2 separate regions of the Homo sapiens genome follow, and region 2 is linked to region 1. The links come from fine-mapping of genetic effects on gene expression. Tissue or cell type: whole blood. Region 1 holds a variant in brackets; the other region holds the start of a gene. All regions are shown on one strand. Distances are between the middles of the regions.

Region 1 (8,109 bases):
TTTTTCAAACTACAGCAACATCAAAGTATGCCTGGAACTATGGTATGGCTCACAGTGTATTTTGGATAGTATTTATGATCTGTAATATAATTAGCTTAATTAATATGTGGTCACAATTTTATGATCAGAAGAGAAAAGGAAAGAATTTATCATGTAAGGATTTTTTTATGATGTAAGGATTTAGGATGTAAGGAATTTTTGTAATACCACAAGATGATAAAAACAGTGACAGATGAAGTTTGGGCATCTAATTTAATATTTCAGAATATTACAAGCCTAAATATTCTCTAAATTAGTGGGGGGAGGAATGTCTGAGTTTACTTTGCAAAGAACATTATTTAAAAGGCTAGTTTAACATTTTAGTAGTCATCAAGATAAATATAATGTTTTAAAATGATGTTAGAGTGTATACACTTTGGTATACCAAATAACAATAATGATAAATAAAAGAAAATGAGGCCTCAGATTTGCCTTCCTTGTGGCTTTGTTACTAACTAGCCATGAGATCTTAAGCCAGTTATTCGATCCCCAGCTTTCCTCTTCTGTAAAGTAGATATCATAGTGCCTATTCAGCATGCCTTTCTGGTAGCATACATATAAGAGAATAAGATGAGAGAGTTTCTTGAGTATTTTGAAGAACTTAAAAACAGTGCAAATAAAGTGTTTTTTAAATTATCATCTCAAAATTGTATGCCACAGACAACCAACTTATAAAAGCAGTCATAAAATAAATGAGAAATGGATTATGATAAATGGTTTAGAGTGTTCATTGTTATGGTAGTAATGGTGGCAAATTTGTTTATTTGTTGGCCTCTGTAAGAATTTTTTATAGCATTTTTTTAATGCTGAAGTTCTATTAGAATAATTGATGAGATTTCCTTAATTTTTTAAATTCTCTTTTGAAAGTTGTGTTTGGACGTTTTCTATTTTTGTGGTGGTTGTTGTCAAGCTGCCCCCACTCCCACACCTTGCGTTCAGCTTCCTGTACCTCCCTACTTCCCCTCAGGTGCACACACAAATACAACTTCTCACCCCACAAAAGTTCTTGGATAAAACCTAAGAAGAGTATCTCATGAACATTCTTAAATAGCATACTAAATTATATAGCTAGCTTTATCATAATGCTACCTTTAAAAATATTTTTCATAATGTATTCTTTCCTAGGAATTTTAAGACTGAGCAGGCTTTTGCTATATCAATACTAGTCAAATTGTTGGTCTTTTATTATGTAAAGTGCCTGAATAATTTTTGCAGGCTGAAGCAGAGGACCTGGATGGAGGAACATTATCACGGCAACATAATTGTGGCACACCACTGCCTGTTTCATCTGAGTATGTCTTTGTTACTATCATTGTTTATTTTGGAAAAAATAAACTTTAAAATGTGGAGTGCTGCTCATTGAGGGGTCTAGATGTTTCTCAGTAGCCTGACAGCACTCACAGTACCAGCATGTGTGTCCATTGTCTTATCAAACGTTTTACTGATTTAAAATAGGGCCTATTTTATGGCTCTTCAACTCTTCCTTGCTCCAGGACTTACAGAAGATGAAGTCAGTCTGTTGTTTGCTGGTAGGGGGAAGCCTTTGAATTGTAGTGTATTTCTTAGAAATCACAAAGCACATTTCATGACCCAGCTTTACAAATTAAAACTAATTCAAATGATAAAACCCAACATCAGTAAAATATTTTTATATCAAAAACTACTATAATCATATTTAGACATTTTTATTTGTTTTTTGTTGTTGTTGTTTTCTGAGATGGAGTCTCCCTCTGCTGCCCAGGCTGGAATGCAATGGCGCCATCTCAGCTCACTGCAACTGCACTTCACCTCCCGGGTTCAAGCGATTCTCCTGACTCAGCCTCCCAAGTAGCTGGGATTACAGACATGCACCACCACGTCTGGCTAATTTTTGTACTTTTGGTAGAGACAGGGTTTTACCATGTTGGCCAAGCTGGTCTTGAACTCCTGACCTCAGGTGACCTGCACACCTTGGCCTCTCAAAGTGCTGGGATTACAGGCGTGAGCCACCACGCCTGGCTATTTAGACATTTTTAATTGAAATTTAATTATGGTATTTTTGTCCTTTTGTATATACCCAGTGGATTAAAGTTAACGGTGAATTCACCTGAAGCTTGTTATAACTTTATACTTCTTGTCTGTTTTCTGAACAGGAAAGATATGATCCGCCAAATGATGATTAAAATATTTCGCTGCATTGAGCCAGAGCTGAACAACCTAATTGCATTAGGAGACAAAATTGATAGCTTTAACTCTCTTTATATGTTAGTCAAAATGAGTCATCATGTGTGGACTGCACAAAATGTGGACCCTGCTTCTTTCCTAAGTACTACATTGGGAAATGTTTTGGTGACTGTCAAAAGGAACTTTGACAAATGCATTGTAAGTTTTCTTTTTTAAAAAAATACCTTAGCATCCTAGTCATTGCAAAATATAGGTAAATGTATTTAAAATCGAGGGATTTCCAGCTTTCTGTTGGGGAATCTGTTGTTTATGTCCCTCGAAGCAGGGCATGGCAACAATCTACATGAACAGAGTTAGTTGGGTGGCACTATGCCAGCTAGTTTCCATTCCACACTGTGAATCTTGGCAAGTTCTGGAGGAAGTGGCACAGTGGCACCAGTTGCTTAAGAGATCCACTGGAGGCCAGACGCAGTGACTCACACCTGTAATGCCAGCACTTTTTAAGGCCGAGGTGGGCAGATCACCTGAGGTCAGGAGTTCGAGACCAGCCTGGAGAACATGGCGAAACCCCATCTCTACCAAAAATACAAAAATTAGCCGGGCGTGGTAGCACATGCCTATAATTCCAACTACTCGGGAGGCTGAGGCAGGAGAATTGCTTGAACCTGTGAAGTGGAGGTTGCAGTGAGCCAAGATTGCACCAGTGCTCTCCAGCCTGGGTGACAAGAGTGAAGACTGTGTCAAAAAAAAAAAAAAAAAAATCTACCGAATCACTGACATCTCAGTTTATTAGTCAATGACCATTGATTTAATGAAACAATTGAAACAATCATTTGGGTTTATTGTTATTGTTCTTCTTTTAATACATTCTAGTAAGAAAACTAATTTGATTATTTTAATTATTTAATTTATTTTAATAGTTTAGTAGCTTTAATAATTGTATTTTATTTTAGGAATAAATTGTTATAACTGAGCAATTATCATTTTCCTCCTAATAGAAAAAAATTTGACAACTTTCTTACTATCTGTTACTTTTTTTTTTTTTTTTTTTTTTTTTGAGATGGAGTCTCGTTCTTGTTGCCCAGGCTGGAGTGCAACAGTGCAATCTCGGCTCACCGCAACCTCCGCCTCCTGGGTTCAAGTGATTCTCCTGCCTCAGCCTCCCGAGTAGCTGGGATTGCAGGCATGCGCCACCACGCCCTGCTAGTTTTGTATTTTTAGTAGAGATGGGGTTTCTCCATGTTGGTCATGCTGGTCTCAAACTCCCAACCTCAGGTGATCTGCCCACCTCAGCCTCCCAAAGTGCTGAGATTACAAGCAAGAGACACCGGCCATCTATCCATTACATTTTTTATACTTGTATGTATGAATTGGGCTAGGCCAGGTTAAAAAATGCTTCATGAACACTTCTCAAGGCATGGCACTAGAGAAGGTAATCTAGACAAAGATATAAATTCATATTTTCTCATAAGTTGCATATATATATATAAAGGACATAGGTTTGCCACTGAAGAGGAGGGTGGTTTCTTCTGCCTGTCATACTTCTGTATATCTTATTTCAATAATGTCTTATTTTTGATAAGATCTTATCTCTCATTTATGAACACTGGTCAATAAGATCAATAGACAGCATTTATAAATGAGTGCTTACTGTGTACCAGGCACAAGTCTGGGCACTTTGCACACATTATGTCATCTAATCTTAAACCCAGCCCCTCAATAAGGTAGATTGTTTGAGAGGTGAAGTTACTTTCCCCAGGTCCACAGTTAAAAAATATGGATCTTGTATTCAAACCCAGAAAGTCTGGTTCTAGTACCTGCAATCTTACCACTACCTTTTCTACTGCATCTGTTTTTCACCTCACAGTTACCAATACTGATGAAGTAGAACATTAGTACAGATAATATGAAATAACTGACTATACTCTTAGGGTTTTCTTATACTAATGTCAGAAGCCTAGAGATAATTATTTTTCTAATCCATGTGTCATA[T/A]GGTTTTTGAGTTATACTCCCCAAATCTCAACACAATGAAATGTTAGGTAGAAGCTGAAATAATACAAAAGTATTTGGCAGTGTAATCATTCCTACTGAGTAGATTTAGATCCCTTCAGAATCATAGAACCATAATTGAATCCGTGGATCGTTTTGAACCTAAGATTCTGTCTGCATGAAACATTTCTTTCGCATTTTGTCATATAATGCACAAGCAGTTTGTGGAACTAAGGCTAAGTGACTAATAAATATATGGAAAATTAAATAATGCAAATCCATATGGAAATGCCTATCCTCCCTCTTTGTTTCTGTACTCTGAAAATAGAGAGTTTGTCTATCCAGACAGAAATTTTAGACTGACGAAAATTGGAAATGACTGTGGTTCTCAAACTTGACCACGTGGCCACCAACCAGAAGTTACCCGGAGGGATCCTATAGGTGCTCTGGAATCTTCTCTCCTGTAACCTAAAATCAGTAATTGCCTTGTACTCATCTTTCATAAATGGTAGAAATGTGTGTTGACTGTTTTTACTTTGTACAGAGACTTGAAGTTCACGGCCTTGATTGTATTTTGTTTTGTTTCATTTTATTTTTTGAGACAGTCTTGCTCTGTCACCCAGGCTGGAGTGCAGTGGCGCAATCTTGGCTCACTGCAACCTCTGCCTCCCAGGTTCAAGCAATTCTCATTCCTCAGCCTCCCAAGTAGCTGGGATTACAGGCATGCACGACCCCACCCAGCTAATTTTTTTTTGTATTTTTTGTAGAGACGAAAATGGCCAGGCTGGTCTTGAACTCTTGGCCTCAAGCGATCCACCCACCTTGGCCTCCCAAAGTGCTGGGATTACAGGCATGAGCCACCGTCCCCAGCTTATAGATGGTTTTAAATAATCTGTATTATTTTGATTTTCTTAAACTTACTGTAAAATGGTTTTATTATCTATAGAATTAGTTTTTCTTAGTTATCCTTGTTTTGATTCATCTTCAATTAGTAAGCATCCAAAGTGTTCTAGGTACCACATAATATCCTGCCTCTATGATATCTATGTATATATCTATATCTCCATCTATATATTTTGTTATGATTATATGTAGTTTTAAAGTTGCTTGGTTATTTATCTCCCTTGCTCTCTGCCTAACTTTAGAGTAACCAAATAAGGCAAATGGAAGAAGTAAAGATCTCAAAAAAGAGTAAAGTTGGAATTCTTCCATTTGTTGCTGAATTTGAAGAATTTGCTGGACTTGCAGAATCAATCTTCAAAAATGCTGAGCGTCGTGGAGACCTGGATAAAGCATACACCAAACTTATCAGAGGAGTATTTGTTAATGGTAAGCTTTTGTTATGTTCTAAAGAATTGTTATAGCTATTGTTTTTATTTCTGGTAACTAAGAAATCGGGAGCAGATAGGTTCATTATTTTGTATATCTTATAATCTTTTTTAGGTTTTCTAACATTAAAGATTTCTTGAATTTGGAAAATAAAACCTATTTGTATTCATTATGAACCACTTACATTTTAGGGTTTATGTGGGCTTATGACTATGCAAAATTGAAAATCTTTTTTTTTTTTTTTTAAGATGGGCCTCACTCTGTCGCCCAGGCTGGAGTGCGGTGGCATGATCTTGGCTCACTGCAACCTCCACCTCCCAGGCTCAAAAGATCCTCCTACCTCACCCTCCCAAGTAGCTGGGACTACAGGTGCACCCTACCATGCCCTGCTAATTTTTTGTAGAAAATCATTTTTTAAACACAAAAACATGACCTTCCAGATTACATTTGCATTTTAACAAGTGGTCTTCTAGAGATGATGGGCTGTGATGTGTGTGTAACCTTAAGCAAATCAATTCACTTATTTAGGACTCAGTTTTTCATATCTACTATACAAGGAAATTAGTACTAAAATACAAGAGAAATTAGTGCTGAAATACTGTAATTCGCTTTCTTCCTGTGTCAGATCCCACAATTAAGTTACAGAAAAGTCTGGACATGTCATTTCATCTGAAATAAATGATCTGATTGCATATATTCAGGAATTGTAAAAGCTAAAAAATTGATAGAAAATGGAATCATCTCACCAATTGTTGCCCAGGTTGGAGTGCGGTGGCATAATCTCGGCTCGCTGCAACCTTCACCTCCCGAGTTCAAGCAATTCTGCTGCCTCAGCCTCCTAAGTAGCTGGGATTATAGGCAGGCATCATCACGCCTGGCTAATTTTTGTATTTTTAATAGAGACAGGGTTTCACCATGTTGGCCAGACTTGTCTCAAACTCTTGACCTCAAGTGATCTGCCCGCCTTGGCCTCCCAAAGTGCTGGGATTACAGGCATGAGCCACCGTGTCCAGCCTTGATTTTTTCTTTTAAAATTCAAAGTAGCTTTGCTTTATCTGATTCTAAAGTAATGTGGCTAGGCACAGTGGCCCACACCTGTAATCGCAGCACTTTGGAAGGACCAGTTGGGGGATCGCTTGAGCCCAGGAGTTCAAGACCAGCCTGGGCATCATAGTGAGGCCTTGTCTGTACAAAAAAAATTTAAAAAATTAGCCAGACGTGGTGGTGTGTCCCTGAGTTTCAGCTACACAGGAGGCTGAGGCAGGAGAATCATTTGAGCTCAGGAGGTCAAGGCTGCAGTGAGCCTTGTTCATGCTACTGCACTCTAGCCTGGATGACAAAGCCAGACCCTGTCTTAAAAATAAATAATAAATGAATGAATGAATTCATTATTCGTTCTTTATAAATCTTTATAAACTAAAACTTATAAAACTTAAGAACAGACAGATATTCCTTTAATTGGATAAAAAATCTATCTCAGGCCTAAAGGTTACATGATACTTAACTGCAACAGTAGAGATATTCCCTCTGAAATGAATTTAAAGCAGAAGTATTGTTAGATCCTTTATTATTTAGCATTGTTATTGAAGTGCTAGCCAGTACAAGACCTGAAACATAAATAACTATTTATCCCCAAAAATCAGCGAATAGAATTTTCAAATCAAGAAGAAAGTAAAGATCATTTTTAATCTTGTTGTACAGAGATAATGTTAAATTTTTATTCTTCCAAACTTTTAAATTCCCTGTCCCTCTCTTCTATATATGGGCATATTGTATGTGTGCTTTCTTTAATATAAAAGTGTTGTCATACCTGACACACTATTTTTGAAGCTGCTGGACTCTATATAATCTTAGTATCTTTCTTAGTTAGTTAATATAGATAAACATAATCATTTTTAATGATTGCATAGTCATCCATATGTCATTATCCATTTACCAAATCTTCTATTAATAAACATTTAGGATTTTTTTAGTTTATCTATCTTTGTATACTTGTCAAATAATTTCTTTAGGGTAAATTACTAGAAATGGAATTACTGGGTCAAAGGATTTATGTATCTCAAGTCTTTTCCCAAATTGTGATACAGAAAGCTTATGTCAGTTTAGTGCTATGAGCAGTTGCATTACAGCTGTACCAATGCTGGGTTTTACTAGGTATTACCAATCTTTTTATTCTTTGTCAACCTGATAGGCTATAAATTATCTCACTATTTTATTTTGCATTTCATTGATTTTGTATATGGTGTCTTTACTTTACATGAATTTTCAAATTTTATCTCCAATTTATTTATCTTTCCCCTTAACAGTCTTCTAAATTTTGGGCCATTCTTAGCAAGGTCACACTATTGCAAAATTATTATTTTTCTATTAGTTATATTTTCTTTAGTACTTATGATTGTATTATTTGTTTGCTTTTTACATTTTAAATAATTTAGCAATTTAGAATTTGACTGCAAGATGTAAAGTAGGAACTTAAATTTCATATATTAAAATGGTCCAGCCGGTTGTCCTAACACATTTTGAATAATTCATCATTTCTCCATTGATCTGAAAAGCTACTTTTATTATATACTGAATTTCCATATACAC
Region 2 (8,109 bases), 43 kb before region 1:
AAAAACAGAACGAAAAAGAAAATAAAGAATCTGGGAAGTGCAGCATTGTAACTCTCATTGTCCACCCCCCACCCCCACAAAGAGTTACTTGGTGTTCTTTGTGTTGATACTAATAGTCTTACATCTCTGAAAAAAAGTTCTTCCTTTCTTAGACAGGAACATGCATCATTAAATTATAAGAAAACAATGCTAAGAAATAGGGAAGAGAAAAATCAAAGTAAGTGTCATAATAAATGTCAAATGTTTAAAATGTCACATTTCAAATTGAAATTATATAAATCTACATGATTTTAAACATTTGAACATTTTAAACATTTGAAGATCCCTTAGCTTTATACCCAAATTAAAATTAATCAGACTGATATCAAAAGACAGTTTGGATGCCAGTAAAAGAGGCATCCAAATATGAAATATGAAAGTCCACTTCCATGAAATCTATGAGTTTTCTCACTAAACAATGTCCTCAAAGCCAGTGGAGCTACCACCGATGTCATCAGAGACAGCCCTAGAGGGAGTGGGGCACTTTTGCCCTTCCTCCTTCAGGGGTTCAAGCTGAGGAAAAGGATGGTCTCCCTCCCCCTTCAAAAGGTGCAAAATGGATTCAGGTCTTGAGAAGAACATGAAGTCTTTACAATCTTCAGGCCTCTGCTTTACTGGTGCACAGTAACAAGAGCGATTTCTCTGAGGAAACAATTAACTTCTATAAATCATCAATATTTACTACTCTTCACCATTTAGAAGAGACTTTTCCCTTGGAGCTTACTAACAATGGAAAAGTTATTTCATGCTATGTAAGTATGAGATTCCCTCATATGTGATACATGTTAATATATACAGCCTTCTTTCTATGTAAAGGAAGCGGGACCTCAGAACCTCCTTGGGCAGAACCTCCTTGGGTGACTATTACATGTTTTTCAAGTAGGTAAATCTGCCCAATTTAATCTACTAAACCAATCTGCATGTAATAACAGCTACCATTTATTGAATGCTTATACTGTGTGCCAAGCAATGAGACAAGTGCTTTACAAGAAACATCTTAGCAAATATGCCCAAGATGGGATTACTATTTTTTATATACAGATGAGAAAATTGAGGCTCTGAAGAGTTAAGTAACTTGCCCTGTGGTCACTGACTCAGTAAAGGGTAAAGACCAGATTTGAACCCCTGGTCTGTGTGATTCCGAAACAGGAAAATTCCCTTATCCCCATCGCAGGGCATGCGATGGGGGTGTCACTCACTTCTTCAGTGCCCCACTGCTCAAACCTCTAGGGGGAGCATGCAGAAGGGCAGGTTGTGGGGCTCGGACTCCACGGCAGCGTATAGGGGTGAACGTTTACAGCTCCTGAAGCCCTGCTCAGCGTTTGTTACAGGGTGCTCTTTTAGTTTAGTCATCCGGATGGCTTGTGTTAGCTAGCTCAATTAGACCTCCTGCCTAATTGCAAGGAGAGGGCTTTCTGTGTCCTGAGGTTTCTTGCCTTGGTGTAACCGGAAGAATCGGATCCCACGTGAGGGCTTGGAGAATGAGTGCAAGATTTTATTGAGTGGAAGTAGCTCTCAGCAGATGGAGAAGCCAGAAGGCAGATGGAGTGGGAAGGTGGTTTTTCCCTGGAGTCGGGCTGCTCAGCAGCCCAGATCTCCCCTGACCACCTGGGGCTAAAATCTGCATCATTCTGCCGGTGGATGGCCTGCCTGTTGATGGCCTGCCTGCATCTGTTGTGTGCTCTTCCCCTGGCACGCTTCTATGCACGTCCAGCCGCTTGTGTGTTCTTCCGCCAATATGTTCTTCTCAACATCCAGCTGCTTGTGTCTCTGCCTGCTAGGGTCTCAGGGTTTTTATAGGCACAAGGCAGGGGTGTGGCAGGCCAGGGTGGTCTTGGAAAATGCAACATTTGGGCAGGAAGGCAGGAGTGCCTGTCCTCACCTAGGTCCATGGGCACAGGCCCAGTGGTGGAGCCCTAGCCAGGGCCCACGTCCTTCCCTTCCCAGCACTTCCCTGCCCCACTCCTGTGTCAATTCCAGTAATGATATACTTTTCATTATTTCATGTTGCTTCTTAAGTCTACTTCATGCAGTAGGCTGTGATGACATAAAGATATTCATTGAGAGACTACCATGGTATACCACGTGTCCTAGGACTAGACAATTTGTTCCTCAGTTTTCTGGTTTTAAAATGAGGATAATAAAGATTCCTTCCTCACAGGGTAGTTGTGATGATTAAGTTAATTAATACATGTAAAATGCTTAGAATAGTACATAGCACATAATAAGTGCTATGTAATTGTTAGATATTATTCTGAGTTCCAGGAATCAGAGATACATCACTGAAAAAAACAGATAAAAATCTTTGCTTTCATAAAACTTCATTCTAGAGAAACAGCAAATGAACAAACAACATATACAATATGTCAAAATGTAGCAAGAACCATGAAGAACAAAAGTAAAAAAGGAAGATAAAAAATACTGGGAGGAGGGTGGTTGGGGAACTATTTTACATAGGGTTCTCTTGGAAGGCCTCAGTGAGGTAACATTTGAGCAAAGACTTGGAAGCAACATGGTAGTAAGCCATGCAGACTGAGGCATGAGAATTGCTTGAACCCAGGAGGTAGGAGGTTGCAGTGAGCTGAGATCATGTAAGTGTACTCCAGCCTGGGTGACAGAGCGAGACTCTGTCTCAAAAAAAAAAAAATTAGTATTTGCTAGATTGCAATAATTGGTTCTTCAGGAGTTGAGTGGGGAATGCTGCCACCAGGATAAACACTATGGAATTCATTGCACTTCAAACTTTTACTTAGTTACCTTGTGCTTCTTACGGAAGTGGACAAGCTGGCAAAGAAAGGAGTTACTATGCTCGTGGGAGTAATCAACTGTGATTAGCAAAAGGATCTAGGATTGTTGCTCCACAATAGCACTAGGGAGGAATTTGGAATCCAAATAATTCGCTGGGGCTTACTAGGTGTTTCTGTACCCAGGGATAATTTGAACAGGTAATTACAGCAATCATGGCTTAACCAGAGAAAGGAAAATAAAGGCTGAAGGTGGGGGCTATTTCACCAGAGAAACAACTTAGACCAGCTGATGTGCTGGTCAATGGTGAGGGAAAATTAGAATGGGTAGTGGAAGAGGGAGTTAATACAAGTATGGTCCTGACATTGATGCAGCAGTAAAAACTGAAGCTTATTCTATTAACTCTCTTATATTAAGGCTTTGCTGAGATTGTGGCTGGCCATCACCTTGAAGAGACCTCTGTGAAGGACTGAACATAACAGAGCACACAGGCAGATCAGAGTGCTGCAAGATATGGACACCTTCTATGTCCTTCTGTGCAACTTAGGCCATGACTTCAAATCCCTTCAGCCTATTATTCTAACCACTGCTGCAGCAACCTGCTCGGAGCAGGTTTGATGACCTTTGAACAAGTGCGAAATACCAGCACCTCTCCTCTCACTTCCTGCCCCAGCATGTCTCTGATGTGGGAGTCAGCTTGGCATTCACAACTGTGCGATTTGTAAGTGTGAAGTAGTTAATGCCCAAGGGCATTAACCTTCGATCAAAGAGGACAGGAGCCGACATACAAATGCTTCCTCCGTTCTTTCCTTTAATGGACAGTTCTGAGACTCATTTCATAAAGCTTCTTAGAAGGTCCTAAGGGACTAAGAAAACATTCAAATATGGTGATGACCAACTCAGTAACACATTCTTATACTGCATCTCCCTTTTTGTTTTGTCTTCTTCCTCTTCCCTCATTTTGCTCCCTGGGATCAAATTTCCAAATAAACTATTGCATATAAGTGTCACTTTGCAGGGAATCCAAGAGGAGAGAGGATAATTTAATTTTTGGACACACAAGTTTGAGGTGTCTATAAGACATCCAAGTGGAAATGTCAGGCGATGGGCAGTATATACACAAATCTTGAGGTTCAAGAAAGAGATCTAGGCTTCTGAAATGCAATTCATTTCCCAACTTTGAGGAGGGCTATAAACATACAGGTAAATAAAAGAAAGATAATAGGACCAAAAAACACATGCAATTGTCATAGAGTGTCCACAGTAAGCATTCCGGTGCCAAGCAGGAAAGGGTCTTTGTAAAGATATAACCAGATCCTGCTCTTAAAAGGGAAGTCATTTGATGAAAGTGAAAAGTATTCTAACTACTGTTTGCTCATTTAAATTTCTAGCACATTTATCTGATCTGTACCTCTCTTTGGTCACTTATTTTGTGTCCTATTTTATATATATTTGTACCTACACCTTGTCTAGTCCTACCACACTGTGAACTCCTTTAGGTTAAGATTCATGCCTGAATCACCTCTGTACCTGGAATCAAAGTGCCTAGCATTAAAAAAAAAAGGTGCCAGGAATATTGAATAAATAAAACACCTACCTGCAACCAGCAACATTGGCATCATTTATGCATCCCAAACTTAAATATGCATAAGCATCATCTTGCTAAGATGCAGATTCTGATTCAGTAGATCTGAAGTGAGCCAGAGAGGCTGCATTTCCTAAAAAGCCCCCAGATGATACCCAAGCAGCTGATCCACGGACCACACTTTGAGTATCAAGGTCATGAGGACAATGGTTCTTGACCTTAGCTGCATATGAGAATCATCTGGGAAGATATTAAAAGTACTGATGTCTGGGTCCCACCCGCAGGGATTCTGATTTAACTCATTTAAGCTCTCCAAAGTTTAAGTAGCAAAGATCTAGAGTTAATAGAGCTTTACGTATGAAAAAAGAAAACATTTAATCGAATTTCTTCTTAAATGAATTGCTGCAAATATCTGAATAAATAACTCTTAATCCCCAACTCCCAAGTCAGTTTCTGTGCCACAAAGGCCCCGCCCCTGCCCTTCCCTGACACGCCCCTCCAATGAGGCCTTGTTCCGCCTGGCCACGCCCGTCGGTTGGCGCCCCGCCCCTCCGCGTCTATTGGCCGCTCCCTTTTTCTCCCATCGCTGCTTCTTCCTTCTCTACGCGGTCAACTTCCGGCGCGGAGTTTGTCACGTGCCCGGATATAGGAAGTGTTGGGGGAACGGCCGCTTCCCGTTCAACGCTTTATTGAGGGGCGTATCCTAGTGGCCCCCATCCGGTCTCCGTTTTGGAAGACCCGCCTCGGCACAGCCAGGCTCAGTCCGGCCTTGCGGTAAGCCTTCGGCCGCGGCTGCCCGGTAGTCCCGGCGGCGGCGGACAGACGAGCTGACAGGCACCAGGGTCTAAGGCGGCTCCTCAGTCCGGCTGCTGTCTCCACGCCTGGGGTCGGGCACCGCTCCTTCTGACCTTCCTTTCCCCGTTTGTCCCGGTAAGACGAAGTTTGGTCAGAGCATTCTCCAGTCCCTTGTCCTCGGGTCTAGGAGAATGCGGAGCTGGGAGGGCAGTCCTCACGGGCCCCATTACGGTTCCGCCCATCGGAACCAGATTTTGTTTGTGCAAAATGACCCTGATCGTAAGCTCTTTGGCGTGGTCCAGGAGAGGAGAGCGTGACTGTGCCTTCCTCTTTGTCCAAATTCACATCCCGGCCCCCCAACCCCAACTCCCCCCCACCCCCCGCCAAATCTCTTAAGTGTATTTCTCTATTTCCTTGCACAGTTATATCTTCTAGATGGCAATGCTTCATGCATTAATATATCTCAGCAGCATACAGGGCCCAATGCACACGGGCACTCACACTGACAGGCTATTTGTCACACAGTGTGGTGGTCCAACTGAGCTGAAGGAAACAACCAGTACAGAGTAAGCAGTGGATGGCTGCCTTTGGAACGTGGTCAGATATGGGTTCTCAGACCTGGAGAATAATTTTAGAGGACCTCTAGGGATTTATTTACTGACTTTCAGAAAAGTACCGTAAAGACTGAAGAGTTAATCACTCGACTCTTAGGATGTAAATGCCATAGAAACACCCGGCTTCAGGTCTTCATAAACATATCTGTCATGTTGACTACTGTAACCTAGAATAGTGTCTGCCACCTAATAAGCATGAGTATTTGCTGAATGAATGAAGAGTCACATACTGCTTTTCATTATGGCTAACTCCTTTATGAGGTATGCCCAATCCTGTCTTGTTTTGCCTCTTACTGTACACTCAGTTGCTTTTAGCCAGAGAAGGAGTATGTGGTAAACGTTGGTCCCTATTATTCATTTGACCAGTTTTTACTATTCAGTTCTAATTACCTTAATAGATATTTAAGTATCCACTAAACACAAAACTATGATGAACATCCCTCCCTTCTTTAAGAGAATTCTTGAGATAGAGAAGCTTATGATTTAATGAGCCCATTAGACGGCAAATGCAGTAAGTGCTGTAGAAATTTAGAGGAGAGATCACTTTGGATTAAGATCTTCATTGAATCAACTTCATGTAAACCATGAAGTGTAATTAGGGTTTGGATAGGGCGGAGATGATATTCCTTACATGGAAAGTACCAAAGTGAAGATTTGATGTCCAAAATGAACAGAGTGTTTGGAGTGGAATGTTTTTGAGAACATTAGGAAAACGTTGAGTAAAAGCGTGATGTGATACAAACTGTCTTTTAAAATTATCTTGTTGTTCAGGGTTGTGGGACCTTGCAAAGAGAACCAGATTTTGTAGGGTTAAGTAAAGTTGATATGAACCTGGGTCAGTATATTTGCAGTGCGAAAAGAAAGGAATAAATTACATGTAGATGGGGGGAAATCGCAGAATGTGGTAGCAGATTTCATGTTGATAAGGGAATAGGGAAGCAAATATGGTAGATTTTGAACCTGGACATTTGCTTATAGATGTGAAAGTTAGGAAAGGGGAATCTTGGAGGAGCTATAGCTGTCATGTTAGTGAATTTAAGCATTTGTTAAATGCCTAGTTTGTCAAGTTCTAGGAATACAAAGATGATTAAGACATGGTCCTACTTTTAATAGGGGATAAAATACAGCTAGCTAGAAAATACAATTCATAAATGCCGTATTTATGAAGTAGAGGGGAAGTGTTAGAGAGGTAGAAATTACTCTTTGCGTGGGGCGGCTGCAGGGAGGGGGCTACTTTACAGAAAAGATGACATTTTAGCACAATCTTGAGGGATGAATTGTAATTTCCTAGGGAGAAGAGAATTCTAGGAAAAGAAGGTTGCATGAACAAAAGCCCAGAGATAGAAAAGTAAACTGGCCAGTGCCATTGTGGCTTGGGCTTAGGAAGAAATATAACATAGTGTCTGGGCCCTACAACATATTAAGGGATTAGCAGCATGGACACTCTATAATAAGCCAAAAGGAGGAGAGGTTGGGTGAAGGTGTGGAGAGACGGAGAAGCAAGCAATTGGGGATAATTGTATTTCATGGCTTTTATATCCTCTGCAAGGTAGATTGTTAAGTCATTTGCAGAGCGGGAGGAGGCTAACTGCTAGACCTGGAAACTGAAGGAGAGTAATAAGGATTTACAACAATAGTCATGGGGAACGGAAAAAGGAATCATCAAATGAGGGATTAATTGCCGAGCAGCATTGAAAGTCTAACTTTCACTGGATGTAGATATTTGTAATGCACGCAATGAGCGTGGATATGTGGCTTTTGAAAGTGGCATTTGGTAGTCCAAGAGAAGTGAAGAAAATAATACAGTTTATGGAGATTGATAAAAACAAGATCAGCTGGTCTACAAACAGGGTGAAATAATTGTAGGGGATAGTTTAGGTATAGGGAAATGAGCACTGTCTCCAGGCTAGGTTGGAAAAGAAGTAAACTTGGAGAGGCCAGATTAAGAGAACAGAAAGAAGGGCAATGTCAGAAGACTAGAGGCTGAGATGAAGTGGAAGTGGGAAGATGTGAATTTTATGAGAAAAGCAATTTTTGGAATTGGAGCAGAGATAGAAGTTTTACAGATTGAGTAAAATATTGGAAAGACTTGTTTTACAAAATAGTCATTGTGCTATAAAAATACGTTGTAAATCATTTATTTAAAAATCATGATTTCTTCATTTTCCCATAGAAAGAAATAGTGTTTTAGAAGTTAGTGTCCTAGGCAAGCTCACATGTATGAAATACTACACATTTGCATTGAAAAATTGTAATACATATCCACACAAATATGTATATGAAAAATAAAATAGAGATTTAAAATTATTTTAAGTTGATGTTTGAAAAGAT

Evidence for each region. PIP is the estimated chance that this variant, and not a neighbour inherited with it, causes the effect.
Region 2: EXOC1 starts here. The variant in region 1 is fine-mapped to the expression of EXOC1 in whole blood (INTERVAL, PIP 0.92).

Annotation. Positions count from the first base shown.
Region 1 is chr4:55,891,381-55,899,489 of GRCh38, forward strand. EXOC1 (exocyst complex component 1) reads left to right here. Exons shown (of 19, transcript NM_001024924.2): 13 at 1-42; 14 at 1,255-1,331; 15 at 2,172-2,400; 16 at 5,337-5,520. All of the region lies in intron 4 of EXOC1-AS1 (EXOC1 antisense RNA 1), which reads right to left. Among named protein-coding and RNA genes, the nearest start is that of EXOC1, 42 kb to the left of the region's middle. The variant T/A (reference allele first, on the strand shown) is at 4,195.
Region 2 is chr4:55,848,655-55,856,763 of GRCh38, forward strand. EXOC1 (exocyst complex component 1) reads left to right here and starts at 4,994. Exons shown (of 19, transcript NM_001024924.2): 1 at 4,994-5,299. RefSeq lists a silencer at 4,786-4,885.